3 linked regions of the Homo sapiens genome follow. The protein of the gene in region 2 purifies or fractionates together with the protein of the main gene of each other region. This does not show direct contact. Each region holds a gene or a part of one and is shown on either strand. Other genes may lie near its edges.

The links. Proteins that work in one complex are often made in the same cells at the same time.
Region 1: the proteins of ISG20 (region 2) and PTPRG purify together in Homo sapiens (affinity purification with mass spectrometry; 2 studies listed by BioGRID and IntAct, with this or other methods). This does not show direct contact.
Region 3: the proteins of ISG20 (region 2) and EEPD1 purify together in Homo sapiens (affinity purification with mass spectrometry; 2 studies listed by BioGRID and IntAct, with this or other methods). This does not show direct contact.

What each region holds. Positions count from the first base shown.
Region 1 is NC_000003.12:62,201,571-62,208,570, reverse strand, and holds part of PTPRG (receptor-type tyrosine-protein phosphatase gamma isoform 1 precursor), read right to left. Parts: intron 5,399-7,000; coding exon 4,621-5,398; intron 1-4,620.
Region 2 is NC_000015.10:88,641,268-88,649,722, reverse strand, and holds part of ISG20 (interferon-stimulated gene 20 kDa protein), read right to left. Parts: intron 1-8,455.
Region 3 is NC_000007.14:36,296,254-36,302,038, reverse strand, and holds the end of EEPD1 (endonuclease/exonuclease/phosphatase family domain-containing protein 1), read right to left. Parts: intron 5,047-5,785; coding exon 4,852-5,046; intron 3,033-4,851; coding exon 2,833-3,032; 3' UTR 501-2,832; downstream 1-500.

The sequences.
Region 1 (7,000 bases), on a different chromosome or scaffold from region 2:
ATGCCGACCCCTGAAGTGGAATGTCCCCTTAGCACCTGACTCAGGGCTGAGCCAGAAGATGCAGTCAGTAAACCTTCAGCAATGAGTGTTCACATACTGAGTTTCTGAGCAAGATTCAACCTGAAAAAAGAGTTTCCCTAATTTAAGGAAACAAAAATGGAAAATCCCAGCACCAAATGATGAATTTGTAGATGATGCCCACTCTGAAATGTTTTTGTAGGGTATGCTGTACTGCATAGTACCCCCAAGAACATTTCATTGCATCAGTTGGCTTCTGGGCTCACGCTGTGGCTCCTCAGGATGGGACCACATGCTGGATTTCCATGTAGCAGACATCCAGCTGAGGGCTTTGCACTAAAGAAACGCTAGAAAAAAGCCTGGTGAAAGGGAGGGAGTACACCTAGGCCTTCAAGCCTTCTGAAAGGCTTCTCAGGAAGTTGCAACTCTAGCAATCAACACTACAGTAGAGGTTGACCACCCGCGGTTCCTACCTGGCCCAGGGATGGGTTTAGTTTGGCCTACATTTTTAAAAAGCAGAAATTGTTTTAAAAATTTGAGCTTACTTAAAAGTTGGGGGGTTCTGCACAAAAACCTGGATTTCTGGCTCACTAGGCATTCTCACTGGCAGTAATCTGTTGGAGCTGAGTGAGATGGCCCTCTTTAGAAAAGTCATGTGCTCTTTAATTTGCTGCAGTCCTTACCACTCCCTAATGTCTAACACCTGGTCCTTGTTTCTCATTAGTATTAACTGGTTTCTGTAGGTGTCTGGGTTTGCCACTTCTTCTATAGAAGGATTCCCTTCTTCTTCTTCCCTGGGAGATAATATATTAAAGCCACTACTCACAGGACTTAAAAATATGTTATGAAACACCAAAGGGATTTAAACAAGCTGTTTGGAGATACTCATAAAAATATAACAGTGTGTAACTTTACACATTATCACTCTTTTCAGAGACCAGGTATTGATTAAAGTAATTGTTTTTCCTTAATATGAAGAAAAAATAAATGTGTAACAGATTTAAAGCAAATGTACACACAAAGTCCTTAAAATAAATCACTAACATTAAAATGATGGCGATTTCATTAAAAAATAAATACCATACTGGAGGAGGCAGACAGGGCAAAGGACAGGGTGAATGGAAGTGAAGCAAGACCTGAAGGATCATTGACTGATGTGGGATTTGCTTGTTTTACCTTCAGGTCACTCACGTCCTTTACTAATCAACAGGCACATGCAGATTTCTGTGTAAACCAGGGGTTGGCAAATGACAGATTGTGGACCATATCAGACCCATCGCCTGTTTCTGCAAACAAAGTTTTAATTGAAATACTATCACATCCTCTCAGCTGTGTATTGTCTATGGTGGCTTTTGTGCTACAAGGCAGAATTAAGTAGCTGCAGCAGAGACCTGTGGCCTGCAAAACTGAAAAACATTTACTCTCTGGCCCTTAGCTGAAAAAGTTTGCTTATATCTGGCTTAAACAATCATCACCACCATTTTCAGACTTGAACTGCTTGAAATTTTCAAGGAAGTTTTTTTTAGCTTTCAGAAGTGGACCTTCTCACTTTGCTGAAGGTGATAAGGGAAAGCTCTGATTTACCAGTGTTGAGTTTCAGGAGGAGGTCCTTCTTTTTTTTTTTTTTTTTTTTTTTTTTTGAGACAGAGTCTTGCTCTGTCAGTGGTGTGATCTTCTCACTGCAGCCTCTGCCTTCCAGGCTCAAGTGATCTCCCACCTCAGCCTCCCGAGTGGCTGGACTACAGGCATGAGCCGCTGTGCCCTGCTAATTGTTGTATTTTTTCTAGAGACGGGGTTTCACCATGTTGCCCAGGCTGGTCATGAACTTCTGGATTTAAGCGATCCACCCTCCTTGGCCTCCCAAAGTCCTGGGACTACAGGAGTGAGCCACTGCACTCGGCCATCTGGAGGTCATTTTTAATGGCAGTTACTTGGGGACCAGTAGCTTTAATGTCCACAGACAATAGCAAAGGAAAGGGCTGTGGGGGGCCTCCTCACAGTCACCATCATTGTGTGGCACCTGGGCTGCTGACAGCTCCTATTTGTCAGTGACAGTGAGGGGGTCTCCACAGCCACACCACCTTCGGCATTAAGCATGATCATTAGCTCCACTTTGCAAACGAGGACACGGGACTAAGACTTACCTGAGGACCCTGAGTGAATAAGGGACAGAGCCAACTGGGTTGATCTGACTCCCAAAGCCACTCTGCCAAGATTGTAGATGCTCTCAGATTTCTGTAGGGTGGAAGCCGAGGACCTACACACCTCATACCTGGAGTAGGGAGCCCCCAAAGTTTGCCATCCATTTCTTCTCCCCTGTCTCTGGAATCTGGAACCTGACTCCAATGGCAAGAACTCATTTCCACTTACCTGGGGCGGTCCCAGTCCCTGCCTCTCTCCCATCTCTCAAACTGTAAATACTCCCAGCCTAAGCTCTCAGCAGCCACATTTTTCAGGAATGTGGTCAAACAAATGTTTAAGAGGAGCAGGCTGAGAATGCTACTTTGCCAGAGCCCATAGTCCAGAGGCTGAACACTCAAGCTTGAAAGTCAATTCCAAGTCCACCACCTGTCTTCATAGAAAACACACTGGTCCAAGCCACCATTACCACTGCCTCCTAACTGGGCTTCTTTCATCCATTCCTGCCTTCCTATATCATCTCCACGCAGAGGCCTGAGAGGTCTTTCAAAAAATCAATCAAGTAACACTGCAGCCAAGATCTACCCTGGTTTCTCATTTCTAGTAGAAGGAAATCCTCAGCGTGGTCAACGAGTACCTTTCCAGAGCACCTCCATCAATCTCTAAATCCATCCCCTCCTCTCCCCCTCACTCCCTCTGGTCTAACCACACTGGCCTGATAGCTCCTCAACTGATCCAAATTAATTCCCCACTGTAGGGTCTCTGGACCTGCTGTTCCTGCAGCCCAGAATTCCCCTCCCTGGATCTTTGCATGGCTAGCTCCTTCTTACCACTTGGCTCTCTGCTCAGAGGTCATCCTTGACCACTCAGAGCTACACTGTCCCTCCGCTCCCCAACTGTAGCAATTAAGGCTACTTAAGGGTATGTATTTGTTTACTGGCATATTCTCAAGCTCCCCTACCAGAATGCAAACCCCAAGAGAAGAGAAGTCTGTGTTACCTATGTTCTACTGCCAAAGCCTAGCCTGGTGCCTCTTATACAGTGGGCATTCCGTACATGTTTCTTCAGCGTCTTCAAATGCAAGAAATTCAACTTTTTCAAAGTAATTCCTAGAGGGAATGTCACTGTTCTTACAGAAACAGCTTCCCAAGTGGCCCCACATTTCCTTCACTCAGTTCCACAAAAGGCTACTCTGCACCTTTCCCCCAGTCACAGCTAAAGTGAGCAATACCCACAGGAGACCCCCACTTCAAAAAATTAGTTCATAGCAGCTTTAAGAGGAAAGTAATTCAAAACATGAAAATTTATTCTAAGTTGTATCTTAACATACGAGATCTCAGCTTTAGATGAATTTTAATGTTTACAAGTGCAAAAGCAAATAAATATTTACCAGTTGCTTTTTTTTTGCACTCTTATAACTCCACAACAGCTTAGACGCAAAAAAAATTGTTGCTAAACATCTTGTAGTCTGGCAAAATGAAGAATTTCTTATTAAGAAAAGCCCTCACAACAATAACAACTCCTCATGCTTATGGCTCCCTTGCAGAAACTATCAGGATGGTTCATTAAGATTTGAGCATATGATAGAGCAACAAAATTGCCACCAGGAGATGAGGATCTCATGCCCTGGCCTCACTGTCTATACACTGGCTCATTCCCACAGCAATGGGAGCTCTGGGAGAGAGGGCCGTATTTCTTGGGCAAGGACCATGGGCCAATACCAGCTCTCCCCAGGCTGAAGCCTTTCATTCTGTAGGTTTCCATGAACAAGCCACTTCTCCAGAGTGGCCTTTCTTAATTAAGGTAGGTCCCTATCCTCTCCATAATTCTCTTGGACAGCATCCTGTTTATTTCCTCTATTACCATTTCACAATCGAAAACTTCAGTTAGTTAGTTTTCCAGCTTGCCAGTTAACCATCTAGCTTGCCGACTAACCACCATCTAGCTTGCTGGCTTTCTAACGTTCCTGCTACCTAACTTCTGGGCATGCGCTCCAGCTAGCTACTGTCTTGTCATCTGTCTGCCTTCCCCTTTAAACTTTTTAGGCAGGGACTAGGATCCCCTGGGACAGCACCCTGCCCAGTCCCTGGCACCAAACTAGCCATTTGTAGATACATTATATAATGAATATGGAATGAAATCTTAATAAATAAACTTCTTAAGATCGATGGCTTTTTTTATTCATGTATATCATTGCCTGGTTGAAGTCCCTGGAGTTATTCCGAGGCAAGAAAACAAATATCAAAGAAAGACTTACTCCAGCGTAAGAGAGTAGGCTTTTGGAGTAAAACAGGGACACACACATACACATTTCACATGTGTGCACCTTTTCTATGACAGACATATATGATTCTAAGAATATTAAGTACCTTCTGAAGCTTCACCTTCTGCTCCCAATTTTTTGAAAAAGGGTACGACTATTCACAGGAGCAGGAACCCTCGAAGAAGACCTGCACCACTTACCTGGATTAACAGTGATAAATCTGCTGTCTTCAGAAAATCGGTCCCCGCGGGACATAGGCTTTTTAGATGGCATTTCGGGCCTCTTGGGATCACTCCCTGCATACTGCTCCTCTGTGGCGGTGGGGGGCACTTGGGTGGAGGTGACCATGTCGGGGTCCAGGCCTGGGCCGGCATCCCTCCTTCCGCCCGTCTGGTCTGTGGGGACGGCAGTGTGATCCTGCTCATGCCCAGGTATAGTCTGATGCCCTCCCTCGGCAGTCCTGTTAGGAGACGAGGGTGTGGGGCTGGGCTCCGTCTGATTCCGCTCCTCGGCAGCGTGGGTCACCCCACTCTTCTCCTTCTTTTCGGAGTCCTTCTCTCCATCCTCCTCGTGCTCCCGCTCCCCATCCTCACTCTCGCTTTTCTCATCCTTCTCTCCTTCCTCGGTGCCCTCGCCGTCCTTGGTTGGTGACGAATCACCATCGGGCCCTGGAGAAGCCAAGGCCTCTGTGGTGGCTAGGACTGGCCTAGCCGCCTGCTTGCTGGCTGAGGCGGCCGTCGGGAGGCGCGTGGGCCACACAGTGCTGGGGAAAGAGGAGATGCCACCACCGCCGAACCCCAGGCCGGCGAGCAGCGTGCTGGTGACCACCGAGGCCACTGTGGCCTGGCTGCCACTGGAGGAGGGGCCCATCCCAGTTGCCATGGAAACAAATGAGAATGGGATGCCAGAGGACGTCCAGGTAGAAGACCCCGAGCTGATGGGGGCCATGTCGGCTGAAGAGGCAGGAGACGCTGTGGGCTGGAAAGGGTCACCCGGCAAGGGTGGAAAAGAGGCAGAAGAAGAAAAAGCAGAGAAGCATCAGTAATTGAGATTGGGAATGAGGCCCTGGTTGTCACCCTCTGAGGATTTTACTCATCTATGCTATGGAGTTTTCCAATGTATGGCATAAAGTTGACATTAGGTGGTCCATGGGTGATCAACTTTTATTTTTAATGGTTTTATAATTGTGAACATGTTAAAATGCATAACTAGTCGATCAAACTCAGCTTTTCACTGATATTACCCAAGATGAGGCTAGGTGCCAAAAAAACTAAGTAGTGTTAAAGCTGACTTACACAACAAAGAAGTCATGAACTGGAAAAATCAGATGGTCATCTGTTCTTGGGGTGATGAGAGGCAGAAGACCTTTGATTTTATGTATATCACTGACACTTGAGTAGATACTCAGCTCTAGGTCTGGAAAGATACTGGGTGATCCAGTCCAACCCCACTGTCTCCCAGTGAGGAAGTGGGTGGACAAGGAGGGAAAGCAGCCTGCCCAGGTCTGCAATGACAGGGTCAGAGGCAGGAGCCATGCTCTGCACTGCATGCTCTGGGCACTGGTTTACATCTCTGCATCTCCATGTTGGGCACTGCAGAGTCACTGTACCTTGCAGTTTCTAAGTTGATCCGTGGGAAAATCTGAGCCCATACAGATGACAACAACATCAACAACAATAACAAGAATTCCAATTAACAAATGCCAACCGTGTGCCAGGGCTTTCCATGCTACTCTGGAGGCAGGCATGATCATCACCCCATTTTGCAGGTGAGGAAACTCAGACACAGAGATGTTAAAGAGCTTACACAAGGTACATGACCTGGAAGGCACAAATGCAGGGCTGCCTGGGTCTAAGACTCGGCTTGTTCTTACCACCATACTAAACTGGGGCTCAAGTCTGGGGGTTTTACTCACATAAGGTATCTTAGGAAAACAAGAAGTGCTGCTCTGAGCTATTAGTCTAATTTTAGCTTGCCTGCTGGGTGATGCTGGACACATTACTTTAACTCACTGAGCCTCGGTTTCCTCATCTGTAAAACGGGAACAACAGTAACACTGACCTTGTGGGCTGCCTGGAGAAGTAAATAAAATAATCTGTGCCTGAAACCCAGGAAGAGCATAGTGAATTTTAGGCTATTATTATTATCACCACTGCTGTGATTAGTATTTTAATTATTCATTATACCAACCAGGAATGGGGAAACTAAGATATTAATTCTGGTTCCAGAAATTTTCAGATCCATATAACTTTACGCAAATGACAACCTCTGAATTTGAGTATATGTCAAATGAAAGGGTTGGAACAGATTTAACTCCTTTGTGGTCCTGCATCGTCTGATCCCACAAATCATAACTAAAAATATGAAGAATTTTTACCTTCACAAAATTATATAATATAACCACCTAACACTGTTGCACAGCTTGTGTTCATAAGGTACTGAATTATAAAAAGTGAATAATGTAATTTTTTCTCTACTATAACCGCTTTACACTGAGCAGTTTAACAACATTATACTGCCACTTCGTGGTGACAGTTTTAACTGCAAGCAAATTAACAACCAGCCACGACAAAGCAATTT
Region 2 (8,455 bases):
AAAACTGAGGCTTTAAAAGATGACAACAGGCACACGACCTCAGAGTAGCAGCTCAAGGGAAACTCTGTGCAGAGGAAACCACCCAGCACGCAGCGGCGGGCAGAAATGGCACGGGGCGTGGAGAGATGTGGGTGTGTGGGCGGCCATGGGTCATGTGTCTTTTCTTGCTAACATCCTTTGTGCTCCTGAACAATGTGGCCTGTTTTCCCCATCTAGGGGCTTGGCTCAGGCCCAGTTCACACAAAGCCCTGAAGGAACTCATCCACCATCCCAGAGGCAGCCACAGCTGGGCACAGACGTAGAAGGTACGAGTCATCATGGTGTGGATTCCCAGGAAACCCATCACTTCCCGAGCCTGAGAGTCTGGAGAGGGGAAGTGGGGGTCTACATGAGGCACTATGTGACTCACCACGAGACAAATAGAATAAGAGGGAGAGGACAAGCCGAGGAAAGAAGAGGAAGAAGGGAAAGAACAGAACCATCTATTTAGCAAAGAGACACCACTCTTTGGGACAAAGATTCTGGGAAGGAAGAGATGCTGGAACTTGCTGTGTGACCTCAGGGATGTCAAAGACCCTCTCTGGGCTTCAGTTTTCCCATTTGTAAGGTGAGGGCCCAGACTGGTGAGGCTTGAGTGGCCCTTTAGCAGCCAGGGCTCCACAGACTGAGGCAGGTCTGAAAAGGGAAGGAGTCGGGCACCTGCTGGAGCCCAGGAGTCGGAGAAAGGCACTGGCAGGCTGGCCTCGGGGCTGTGTGACCTGCTGGCCACAGGACCTGCCCTGAGTCAGTGTCATGAGGCAAGTGTGCCAGACTTTGCCACTTTCAAACACAGGGGGAGGAGTCTCTCAAATTCCTGGAAAGAACTGGGGTGGGGCTGGGGGATGGGACATTTATTGATCTCTTAGCAGCCTGGCACTGTGCCAGGCACTTTCCTTACCTCCTCAGGAAGCTCCTCAATGAGGTTATTCTTAATTCCATTTTACAGAGGAGGGAGCCCGAGATCAGAGAGATTAAGGGGCTTGCCCAAGTCACACAGCTAGTCAGCTGAAAGCTGCAGTGCCGTGTCTGGATCCACCTGACCCCATCATTGTTACTGTAGTTGTTATTATTAGCACAAGGACCAAGGGACAGGGCACTACCAGGCACACAATGATAACGGTGCAAGGCGGTGACTTCCATACCATCTGACCCGCCAGCAAAGCGGGGCGCAGGGCGGTGTGCACCCAGGTCACAAGCAGGGGAGTGCCAGACCAGGTGCGGCTGTCTGCCTGCACACACCTTCCACTGTGTTTCCACTCTACTCCAAGTATTTCCCAGATGTGCCTGATCCAAAAATCCAGGAGGGCCAGGCCCTACACAGACCTACTGAATTGAAATATCCAGGGAGGGGTGTCAGCAACTGTTTCAGGGGATTCTTCCCATCTAACAAGTCTGCACATCTCTGCACTGAATCCCGCTGAGCAGTCCAGAGCCTGCTGCCTCTACCATGCATTCATTCATCCATTATACACTAGTTCACGTACCCATTCATTCATTCTTGGCTGCCAGGAGAGGAGGCTATGAGTAAGGGGCCCTGAAGAATCTTGTTCTTACAGAGGACAGGTCCCTTACTATCACCTTCTGGAGTGGCTCCAGCCCCATTCTTTGCTCTTGTCCCCTGCCAAGCTCCCCTGGTGTCCCCGCCCCCCGGCTAGTGCCTGGTTCCCACAAGGCCACTTACCCTGGGGCAAATCTGGATATTGAAGCCTTCCTCCTTCATCTGGCTGAGACCCAGAGGGACCTGCCAGGTGGCAGGGCCCCAACAGGACACTCCCACCTGTGCAAGGGCTACCAGGCTGGCTACAGCTGAAACCTCTCCCTGTTCACAAGCTACCATGACTTCCCTTCTGTCTGCATCTGTGCCCGCGACCACGGTGCTTCTCAGGGTGGATGCCCCTCCTTATGCTGGGTTGACGTTAAAAGAGAATTCACTCACAAAACTGATTTACAAGTTACTAAAAATTACTGTTAGATTTTTTAAAAAGGAAGAAGAAAAACATTAACTCGCCAGGTGGGACCCATGAATCTGAGCAGTGATTTGTATCATAGCTTCCTGTATGTCCTTAGGCAAATCACTGCCCCTCTCTGGACGCCAGTCTCCAGTGCATGGATTCCCTCCTGTGCTGACAGTCTGATTTGTGGCGCTCTCTTATAGACCAGGGTTTCTTAGCCTTAGCACTGTTGCCATGTGGGGCCAGATACTTCTTTGTTATGTGTGCGTGGCAGGGGAGGGAGCTGCCCTGGGCATTGTGAGATGTTTGGGAGCTCTCTGGTCTCTACCCACTAGATACCGGCCACTGTGACAACCAGAAATGTCTCCCAACATTGCTAAATATCCCCTCTATATAATGGTCAGACACAGAGATGTCAGAAGATCATAAGCACTTACATTATAAAAGTAATGTCGCCACATTACAATAAATAAAAAGGGGTGGAGTGGGGGGGGGGTCCCACTCACATCAGTGGCCTAAAGCACTCCTGGGTGGACTTGGGACTCCCCGGAGCCTCCTGGCCACCATGGGCTACTTGATTGCTGGCTGCTGGCTGGGCACACTCACTACTCCTTACTGGGAGGAGACGGAGAGGTGAGGGGCCTTTGAAAAATGCCTGCATAGCCAGGCGCAGTGGCTCATGCCTATAATCCCAACACTATGGGAGGCCAAGGCAGGAGGATTGCTTGAGGCCAGGAGTTCAAGACCAGCACGGCCAACATGATGAAACCCCATCTCTACTAAAAATACAAAAATGAGCTGGGCATGGTGGCACATGCCTGTAATCCCAGCTACTCAGGAGGCTGAGACACGAGAACTGCTTAAGCCTGGGAGGCGGAGGTTGCAGTGAGCCAAGACTGCGCCACTGCACTCCAGCCTGGGTGACAGAGCAAGACTCTGTCTCAAAAAAGAAAGAAAATAATGCCTGCATGAAACCAAAGGCTGGCCAACCCTAGACTCACCTGAGAGGTGTCACCTGGCCTTGTGGGATCTCATAAAAGGGCTGTTAGGCTTCTGCCCTTTGGGGGCCCTCAGCACATTTGGGGGCCCGTGAGCCTGATCTGTCTTTGGGATTAAAACATTATGGATGATAAATGGGATCAAACTGCCTCCGGAGCCTCCAACAAATTGACACTCAGTGTCCTCATCCACAGAGACAAATAATGACCATTACTGGGCCACATTTCCACCCATGTGCTATGCAGGACCTCGCCCCTTACATACATTGGACACTTAGCATTTATAGAGTGCATTCACACACACTGAGCATGGGATCTGAACACCACAGCTCCAGCTCAGGAGCCAGAATCTGAGTCTCTGCTCTATCCCTTCCTTGGACAGCTTACTCAGTCTCATACCTCAGTTTCCTCATCTGTAAAATGGGAGTGATGGTACTAGTTCAGGGTTGTGGTGGGGAGTATGAAACGTGCTCAGAATAGCACCTGGGCCACAGGGCTGGATACACCTGTACTATTTAATCATCTCTGTGTTACAGAGGATCCTACTTAGGGGAGCACAGAGAGGTTGAGCAACAAGCTAGAGGACACAGAGCAATCCAGAGGCAAAGTTGGGATTGGATCCACATGCAGCCCAATCTAAAGACAGTGTGCTTGCTCCCTGCCCATCAGGGCTATGCATCACCACATCTCAACAGCAAAGGCCAACACAGGGCAGAGACAATTTTACTCCACGCAGCTGCCAGAACTCTTTTGTATTTATGAAAATCAGTTCAACTTCAATCCCACAAACATTCTCAAGTCACCTGTGTGCAAAACACAGGTTCCAGTCTGGGGGCAGATAAAGTGTATAGTAAGAGCTGTGGAAATAGACAGATGGTGTGAATGAATGGACGAGCTATGATGTGCATCAGCAACAGCAAGGAGGGCCAGAGGCTAGGGACCAGTGGGGCAGCGATGGTGGGCAGGAGTGGGTAAGTGCATCATAAAGGTCTCTTCTGGCCTGGGGCTGCCAGAATGATGGTATTTCTAGGGAGAGGGATGGGGGATAGGAGAGACTAGGAGTTGGCTGAAATGCATGGTAGGCAATGGCTGAGCTATGAGAGAAAGCAAGAAAGGCAGATAGATAGGGGTTTGGAGAGCCTGACTGCTAGGTGCTGAGCTGGGGGAACCTTAGGCAATAGGGAGCCATGGGAGATATTTTAATAGGGGAGGCGGCGATGATCTGAGCCAGGTTTAGGGAAGTTCTCTGGCAGCAGAGTGGGAGAGAGCAGCATGCACACAAGATACAGCCGGCAGAAAACGAGGGTCAGCATCGAAGACCGCAGTTCCCAAGAGAAGTCGGAGAGGGGACTGGGTTTCTGCCCTTCTCTCTTCATGGGTGCAATTAGCAAACATCAGCTGTGAACCAGGCACCGCGCTTAGGGCCACAGTCCATGTCACGGCATCTGACCCGCATGAGACCAGGGAGGAGGCACTAGGAGTTCTCTTTTATGATTAGGAAATGGAGCCTCAGAAAGGTTCAATAACTTGCTGACAATTGTACAAACCTATAGGTGATGGAGCAGGAACTGAGAAGCCCGGATGTGGTTCCAAAGACCTGCCTGGTCTTTGAACCCCTGCCTCATCGTTCAGTGGCTATCAAGTGCCCAGTCTGAGCAGGGTTCCGTGTCACACGCTTAAAGAGTGGAGTTGGCATATCCTCTAACTGAGAAACAAAAGCATTTCTGCACCAAATGTGGATGAAGACTGAGGCGTCCAGGCCCCGAGGCCAATGCTCAAGGGCGCCCAGGGAATTGCGGTTTTCCAGGTCTGGATGTACAGGGACTCGGAGAGGTACTGCTCTACTGCCTCCTTTCTCCCTGCTCTGGGCTCCTCTGCCCCTTTCTGTCTGTCTGATGGGGAGGGAAATTGGGGACAAGGAGGAAGGAGAGGGACATACTGCCCACCCTGACTGCTCAGTGGGAATCTGAGGGCGGGGAGCTCCTTGTGGTGTCCCTGGGCCTCCCATCAGCACCTGAACAGACTCCCACCTCTTCTTCATGTTGCCCTCACCTTTCTGGTGACTCTCCAAACGTTTTCTTCCTTTCCTAACGTTTTCTTCACTCCAATTCTCTGTCTGCCAAAGATGATGCAGGCCCTTGTAACTGCTCCCTAGGGCCTCTGACTCTTTTTTTTTTTGTCTTTTCTTTTTTTTTTTTTTTGGAGACTAAGTCTCACTTTGTCGCCCAGGCTGGAGTGCAGTGGCACGATCCCAGCTCACAGCAACCTCCGCCTCCCGGGTTCAAGCAATTCTCCTGCCTCAGCCTCCCAAGTAGCTACATTACAGGCACATGCCACCATGCCCAGCTAATTTTGTATATTTAGTAGAGACGGGGTTTCACCATGTTAGCCAGGCTGATCTCAAACTCCCGACCTCTGGTGATCTGCCCACCTCGGCCTCCCAAAGTGCTGGGATTACAGGTGTGAGCCACCATGCCCAGCCTCTGACTCTTACCGTCATCTCTTTTCTCGCTCCCATCTATCCTGCATGGTATTCCCATTCTAGTTTTCTTGAAACTGGTTTTTATCCTCCCATGCATTGCTCAAGAATCTTCAATGGCTCCCTATGGCCCACTTAATTCCCTACATAGACTCTCCTCCACCCCTTTCAAATACCACCAGCTTCACGGAGTCTTTCCAGAACCAAGATGATGTACTGTGACCATCTCCAGGGTTCCCACACTGTACTGTTGATACAGGTACAGCATCCCAAATACAAATGCTCCAGAATCCTAAACTTTCTGAGTGCCAACATGACGCTCAAAGGAAATGCTCATTGGAACATTTCAAATTTCAGATTTTCAAATTTGGGATGCTCAACCAGTAAGTATAATGCAAATATTCCAAAATCCAAAAAAATCCCAAATCCAAAATCCAAAACCCTTCTGGTCCCCAGCATTTCAGATAAGGGCTACTCAATCTGTACTTCTAGAACAGTGTTGTCCAATAGAAATATAATGCAAGCCACAGATGTAATTTTTTCTTTTTTTGAGATGGGGTCTTGCTCTGTCGCCCAGGCTGGAGTGGCAGTGGCACGATCTTGGCTCACTGCAACTTCCGCCTCCTGGGTTTAAGCGATTCTCCTGCGTCAGCCTCCTGAGTAGCTTGGATTACAGGCACCCACCACCACACCCGGCTAATTTTTGCATTTTCAGTAGAGATGGGTTTTCACCATGTTGGCCAGGCTGGTCTTGAACTCCTGACCCCAAGTGATCCACCTGCCTCAGCCTCCCAAAGTGCTGAGATTACAGGTGTGAACCACTGCACCTGGCCCACAAATGTAATTTTATATCACCCAACAGCCATGTTTCAAAACGTAAAAAGTAAATAGGTGAAATTAATTTTAACGTTTTATTTAACCTAACATATCCAAAATACTATCATTTCAACAGGTAATCAATATAAAAGTTATTGAGACATTTTATGGCTCTTTTTAATATTTTAATTATTATTATTTTTTAATAGAGACAGGGTCTCTCTTACCCAGGCTGCAGTGCAGTGGCATGATCATAGCTCAGTACAGCCTCAAACTCCTGGGCTCAAGCAATACTTCACCTCAGCCTCCTCGAGTAGCTGGGACTACAGGTATGCACCACCATGTCTGGCTAATTTTTATTTTATTTATTTATTTTTTTTGTAGAGGAGATCTCACCATCTTGCCCAGGCTGGTCTCAAACTCCTGGGCTCAAGCCATCCTTCTGCACTGGCCTCCCAAAGTGTTGGGATTACAGCCATGAACAACTGCATCTGGCCTGTCTCTTTTTTAAATACAAGGCTTCAGCCAGATGCAGTGGCTCATGGCTGTAATCCCAGCACTCTGGGAGGCTGAGGTGGGTGGATCACTTGAGGTGAGGCATTCGAGACCAGCCTGGCAACATGGTGAAACCCCGTCTCTACTGAAAATACAAAAATTAGCCAGGCGTGGTGGTGCACAGCTACTTGGGAGGCTACTTGGGAGGTCAAGGCGGGAGACTCCCTTGAACCTGGGAGATGGAGGTTGTAGTGAGCCGAGATCGCGCCGCCACACTCCAGCCTGGGCGATAGAGCGAGACTTCGTCTCAAAACAACAACAAAAAATCCAGTGTGGACTTTACACTTTCAGCACATCTCAGTTCAAACCAGCTACACTCCAGGTCTGAATTCAGTCTACTAGCAGCATATGGCTGCTGGGGACCCCACTGGACAGCATAGTTCTAGAGACTGTAAGCCTGAGTTTGGATTCCTGAGCAGTTGTCCCATATTCCATCTATCTTAACAGCGTAAGTTACTCAGTTTATGGGTTGAACTGTGTCCCGCTCTCTCAAATTCATATGTTAAAATCCTAACCCCCAATACCTCAGAACGTGATTTATTTGGAAATAAGGTCGTTGCAGATAGAATTAGTTAAGGTAGGATGAAGTCACACTGGAGTAGTAGGGTGGGCTCATAATCCAATATGATTGGTGTCCTTTGAAAAAGAGGAAGTTGGCTGGGCACAGTGATTCACACCTGTAATCCCAGCAATTTGGGAGGCCAAGGAGGGCAGATCACCTGAGGTCAGGCATTCAAGACCAGCCTGGGCAACAGGGCGAAACCCCGTCTCTACTAAAAATAAAAAATTAGCCAGGCGTGGTGGCGGACACCTATACTACAACTTGGGAGGCTGAGGCGGGAAAATCGCTTGAACCCAAGAGGTGGAGATTGCAGTGAGCCGAGATCGTGCCACTGCAGTCCAGCCTAGACAACAGAGTGACTCTGTCTCAAAAAAAAAAAAAAAAAAAAAAAAAAAGAGGAAGCTAACCAGGTGCAGTGGCTCATGCCTGTCATCCCAGCACTTTGGGAGGCCAAGGCAGGCGGATCGCTTGAGTCTAGCCTGGCCAACATGGTAAAACCCCATCTCTACTAAAAATACAAAAATTAGCTGGGTGTGGTGGCTCGTGCCTGTAGTCCCAACTACTCAGAAGGCTGAGGCAGGAGAATCACTTGAGCCTGGGAGGCAGAGGTTGCAGTGAGCCCAGATCCTGCCACTGCACTCCAGCCTGGGCGACAGAGCAAGACTCCATCTCAAAAATAAAAAATAAAAATAAAAAGAGGAAGTTTGGACACACACAGAGAGAATGCCATGTGAACATGAAGGCAGAGATCTGAGTGAGGCATCTATAAGCCAAGGTACCCCAAAGCTTTGACAACAACCCCTAGAATCTGGGAGAGGGGCAGGGAACAGATTCCCACTCACAACCCTCAAAAGGAACCAACCTGGGCGACACCTGGATCTCAGACTGCAGCCTCCAGAACCCCGAGACAGGACATTCCTGTTGTTTAAGCCACCAGTGTGTGGTGCTTTGTTATGGCAGCCCTAACAAATAATCAAGCGAGCCCCAGTTTCCTCATCTGTAATATGGGGATAATAAGGTAAACAACCATGGCCAGATGCGGTGGCTCATGCCT
Region 3 (5,785 bases), on a different chromosome or scaffold from region 2:
TATAATTCCAACCAAACGACACCCTGGAAAAGACAAAACTATGGAGATGGTGAAAAGAGCAGTGACTGTCACGGGTTAGGGGGAGGGAGGCATGGGTGAATAGATGGAGAACAAGGGTATTTTTTTTTAGACAGAGTTTCGCTCTTGTTGCCCAGGCTGGAGTACAATGGCATGATCTCAGCTCACTGCAACCTCTACCTCCCAGGTTCAAGCAATTCTCGTGCTTCAGCCTCCCAAGTAGCTGCGAATACAGGCATGCGCCACCACATCTGGCTAAATTTTGTACTTTTAGTAGAGATGGGGTTTCACCATGTTGGTCAAGCTGGTCTCGAACTCCTGACCTCAAATGATCTGCCCGCCTCCACCTCCCAAAGTGCTGGGATTACGGGCTCGAGCCACCATGCCCCACCACAAGGGCATTTTTACATCAGAGGAACTATTCTGAATGATTCTGTAGCATGGTGATACATGTCATTCTACATTTGTCAAAACCCATAGGATGCACAACACAAAGAGTGAACTTTAATATAAACTATGAACACTGTAGCTAATAATGAATACAAGTTCATCAGTTGTAACAAAGTGCCATGCTAATGCAACATGCTAATTAGAGGGGGAAATATGCAAAGAAGAGGAGGGATATGGGAATCCCTTTGTGCCTAATTTTTCTGTAAACATAAAACTGCTCTTACAAATAAAGCCTATTAATTAAAACAACAAAATACAAAACAACAACTAAAACCAAAAACAGCCAACACCCAATGGGTTGAGCTGGAGTAAGAACAGGCTGCCCAGCACACTTCCTGGGCCACTGAGCCCTGGGCGTGAAAAGCAAAAGGGCCAGTGAGGTTTGGCTGGGACTCAGCTCCCCAGCCTCTGGCTCAAGCCCGATTACGAACACAAAGGTCATCTGATTGGATTTCCTGTCCCCTCAGCTCACTTAAGGAGGCTTTTCTGTCCACAGCTTTGGTTGCAAAAAGCAATCTGGCTAAAGGGATTTGGGACATCCGGCTGGTGAATGTAGGGGAGGTTTCACCTTTAGATGAGGCACCAGAAACGATGTGCTCCCTGGTAGCATCCTGAGCTGCCCCTCTTGACTTTAATGCTAACCCTGCTGCTTTTCCTCAAGGCTCAGACATCCCATTTCGATGCTTCCAGAAGCACAGCCTGAACCCAGGGACAGGAGCTGCCGCCCTCCCACTGGAGAGACCTCAGAATGGACACAATTGATTCCCAAGTACCCTTAGAGCTCCTGGAAGAGGGTTCCCTTCCCGTCCCCAAGACCAGCGATGCTTCTTGGAGCCAGGTGGCCCCAAAAGGATGGCCTTTGGAGAAAAATAGGCCCCCTTCACGGCCCATCAGCTCCAGGTCAGAGAAGCCACTGGGTTTACACTGCGTGGGGACAGGAGGGTTCTTGATACTGGTCCACATTTAGTGTTCGGTGTGGAAAGCGGAATAAGTCCTCAGCTTCCATGGGATACTGGAATAATCTAGGTAATCTAAGCTCATAACTTACCTTTTCACTATTTACTTTCATATTTTTCCATTCATGTTAAGCATAAAGTTGAAATGTGAGCACATAGCAAAACCTGAGTCTGCATCCCTCTATTTACCCAGTGGTGTGACCTTGAGGAGGTCGAGCTCTCTAAGCCTCAGCGTCTTCAGCTGTGAAACGCAAATTGTGGCAGATCTCCCTGGGATGGTGTTGCCTAAGGGAAATCCCTCCTGGCTTGGGCTCGGGGATGCAGATGCCTAGTGGCAGGCACGCATCCTCGCTTCCTCCCCACAACCTCTCTCCAGCCCCACAACCAACTGTCCCTACCTCCAGCCACTAGGAGGGACACTCTCCATGATACCCCGAGGTCAACTTCCTATGTATCCTGACACAGCACACATTCCTGATAGTCAACCACAGGAGGCTCCGGGCTAAAAACTGGAGTGAGTGGGGAGGAGGGAGGAGGTGATACCACCCTGAGAGAATTCTTGTCCTGCAAAGAGAACTAAACAAATAGTGCTCCAGGCAAAAGCCAGGCTGGTGAAGGAGGCAGGGGATGAAGGAGGGGCTGGGAAGGGGAGATGACAGAGAGGCTTCACAGAGGTCCCGGCGAGCTGATGGGGCCTTGAGAGGCGCCTCTGCAAGGCCTCAAGGTGGGGACATAAAAGGCGCAGGGGAAGTGAAGCTGCTCAGGGCTTGACCCTAGCTCCACACAGAGGCACCTGCCGTGGTGCAAATACACACTGCGCGTTGGGGGGCGGGGGAAGGGGGCGGGGGAGGGCTGTGGCGGACTTGTCCCATGCTCTCACTGCAGCGAGGCAGGTTAATCTGTTTATTTTTTCAAAACAAAACTAAAAATCGCCACTCAATGTATCTGAGCAGAGTGCCTGATCACAGTTAAAAGCTTTCTGTAATGCGCAGCAGGAACGTCATAGCCTGGTGGTCAGAAATGAGTGCTTCTGGCGCTGCTGGACTGTGGCCCGCAGCCTGAGCACCCCTTCTTCTCCTCCCTCTGCTCATATTGTCTTTGTGCTGCCATCCAGTCAGCAGCGGACAGCCAGCCCAATGCTGCTCAGGTCTGTGGCATCCAGAGATAAAAGGCGTCTCCGCTCCCCGCAGGTTTCTGCTTTGCCCACCTGGTGGGGTACGCGCCTGGCACGCCACCCCCACTGGAGGTCCTGAATGGTCCACAGAGAAGGCGTGGGGCAAGGCCTCAAGTGCTGATGCTCTGAGAATAAAAATTAAAAGGCAGCTCTGCCCTGAAGCGTCACCCCACAGGGCTCATTCCTTGGCTGTGCCCTCCTGGGTCCCAGGGTGGACACATGGATTTGGTGTCATCATCGCTCGTGCTTGATGTTGGCTTCACTTCGCTCCAAGGCCACCCCGCTGCCGTTCCGAGGGGCATCCTTCTTGCTCCAGTCCTTTTCAGTGTAGAACTCGGCTAGCACTGGGCAGTGTTCAGAAGCCACCCCGCCCCAAGACCAGTTATCCGGAATCCAAGGGTTCGTGAGGCCTTCTCTCACCACAGCCCAGTGACCTGAAGGGAGAGGAAGGAAAGAGACCGGGAATCAGGATGGGGGGTTGGGTGCGGGAGGTCCTGGATTGGCAGGTGGAGGGTCACACCGCATGTCTGCAGGCCGGGGTGCCCGGAGAGGCTGCCTCAGGTAGCTGGAAGGTGCCTGTGCATTTGCCTGTGCATATTAAAGGTCTCGGCCAGTTTGATTTTCCACATAAAGGAGAGTTTCTGCATTTAGGCAGTGAAAACACCCAGAGGCCAGGCCTCCTGTCCATCCAGACACACATGGGCACATGGGCTGACCTGTCCTCATAAACGCGCTGCTGTGAATCTGATCACAAAACAGAGACAGACGCCTCATAAAGACATCCCAAGTCCAAAGCAAAGGTCCAGTTTTGCAAAGCAAAAGACACTAAGGGGGTTAGGGGTGGAAATTCTTTCTACACAAAGGGTAAAAAAGAAAAAATTACAGAAGCTTATGAGAAAGTAATGGTATTTTTAAAACGAGGATTTAGAAATCTATGAAGCAGGAAGTATATTTGAATATAATTAAATAATGAATAGTTACAAAAACAACTACAGAATAGCTAGAAAGCACTGTGTGGTCCTTAGTGCAGGATTGACATGGGCCTAGATTCTGGGTGGAGCTTTGGCACACACTGCTGACCATTCTGTAGCGGGGGCAACTCCTCCCTGAGCTCAGCAACTTCACAGGAAGGGAACCACTGAAAGGATTTCCAACTTCCTTCCAGCCCTGTTGGCTCAGCTTCCCCAGCTCTCTTCCTTCAATAGACACCTTCCTGGGGGCCTGCAAAGGCCGTGGGCTGGCCTCTTTTCCTGGCCCATAGCGCATTTCTGCAAACCGAGGCTAGTTTGACAATTGTCATTCTCCCTGAGACCCACTTTCTTCATCATTTGGGTCCTCCCATGACAGAGTACAACAGGAAACTAGTGCCCCAAGAGAGAGGGGAGAAGCAGGTGACAGTCAAGCCTAGATGTCCTAGTCTTGAAGATCTTGGCCTTGGCTGCCCATTAGTCTCTCTCGCAATAAAAGCCAGGCCCTGCAACTTTTATTTTTAAATTTCTCATTGAAGTATAATAGGCATCCGTGGGGCTTCGCAAAATGTCCAGTCAGAGTTTAGAAATACTGTTCTTGTCTTTCATCAAAAGACCCTACTGTCTCTTCCATATTGTTGACTGTGTCCTGACTCAGCAGGTTACCAGTCTGCAGAGAGGGTGAAATCACCCCCATACCCTGCTCCTTGCAGAGCACTGAGCATTTCTCCTGTCCCATTGTGACACTATATGAGACACCTGTTCACCTCACAGCATGTCCACCTCATAGCATGTCTACACACTGCATCCTACAACACAACACTTGCATGTTTGACAAATGTTTGCTAGAAGACTAAGTGTCCTAAAAGTAACGTTATCAGCTCATCTCTGAATCAGGACTCTGCCAATCTATAACCAGGTTTGCCTGGAACACATCTGCTTGCTGTAGGTCAGTGGGTGTTCTAAAATTATTTGTCACACTCCCTTTCACTTTGAAAAATGAGGATTTAGAAATCTAAGCAGCAGGAGGTATATTTGAATAAAATTAACGAATAGTTACAAAAACAATTAGAGAATGGCTGGAAAGCACTGTGTGGTCCTTAGCGCGGGACTGACAGGGGCCTGGATTCCTGGATTCTGTCTCTGATTAAATGACAGTTATACAGTCACGTAAACCACAATCCTATGTATGCCTCAGAGGAGGTGAGATGACTTCTGTCAGTTCAGACATGTTTCTCTCACTCCATTCCTGAACAGGAGAAAGGACAAGTGAGTTCTGCCTCACCTGTGAAAACCTTCTTTAAGCTTTTACTGATCCAGATGTTGTCCAGAGACTTCGAGCCTTGAGGGTTCTTGGTGCTGATGTTGGTGAAGGTGTGCGCGGGGATCAGGTGGTGGAACTTTTCTTTCCTCAGGATATCATAGTCATTGCTGTCTGGCCCTTGGCCAAAATCCCCTAAGATAATGACATCCTTTTCTCCTGGAAGTGGAAGGAAGAAAATGAGTTTAAGAGTTGTTGGGAAGTAAAACCCAACACTGACCGTGGCCCTTTGAAACGGGATTGAGATTCTCTGACTTGACTCCCATGGGGTTAGTACTGTGGCATGGTTCTCACTCTCCTCACTCTTCCACATTTCATGTGCATATCACCCTGCCACCAATATTAAGAGTAAGTCAGCAACACGTTTGGAAATCAGGGGCAGCGTGACACAAAAATCACCCTTGTTGAAGCCTATGGGTTCCAAATCTTATCACAAAAAAAAAAAAAAAAAAAAAAAGACCTAAGGGTCTTACCCAAATATTTAACAAAAACTCAACATACTACTGGGCACTTACTATGCAGGAAATCCAGAGATGAATAAAATGCAACTCCTGCTCTGAGAGACAGACTAGAAAACAGACAAGAGCACAGAGTAGGTGCAAAAACAAACACACATACTGAAACCAACACAGCACAGGGAAAGGTGGTCAGGGAAGGCTTCCCGGAGGAGACAATGCCTGACTTGGGTCTCAGAGGATGCACAGAAGTGCTTGGGTCAACATGGATGAGAGGGAACCTATGCAAGGCCAGGGAGCTAAGAAACAGCCTGGCTTCCCAGGGGTGGGGTGGGTACCTGAGGTTCAGTTGGCTACTTCTCTAGGACAAGGTATCAAGAAGCCAGATGTTAAAGATGAGGTTGGAGATATAAGCAGCAGCCACTCCTCGATTGGGAACTGTA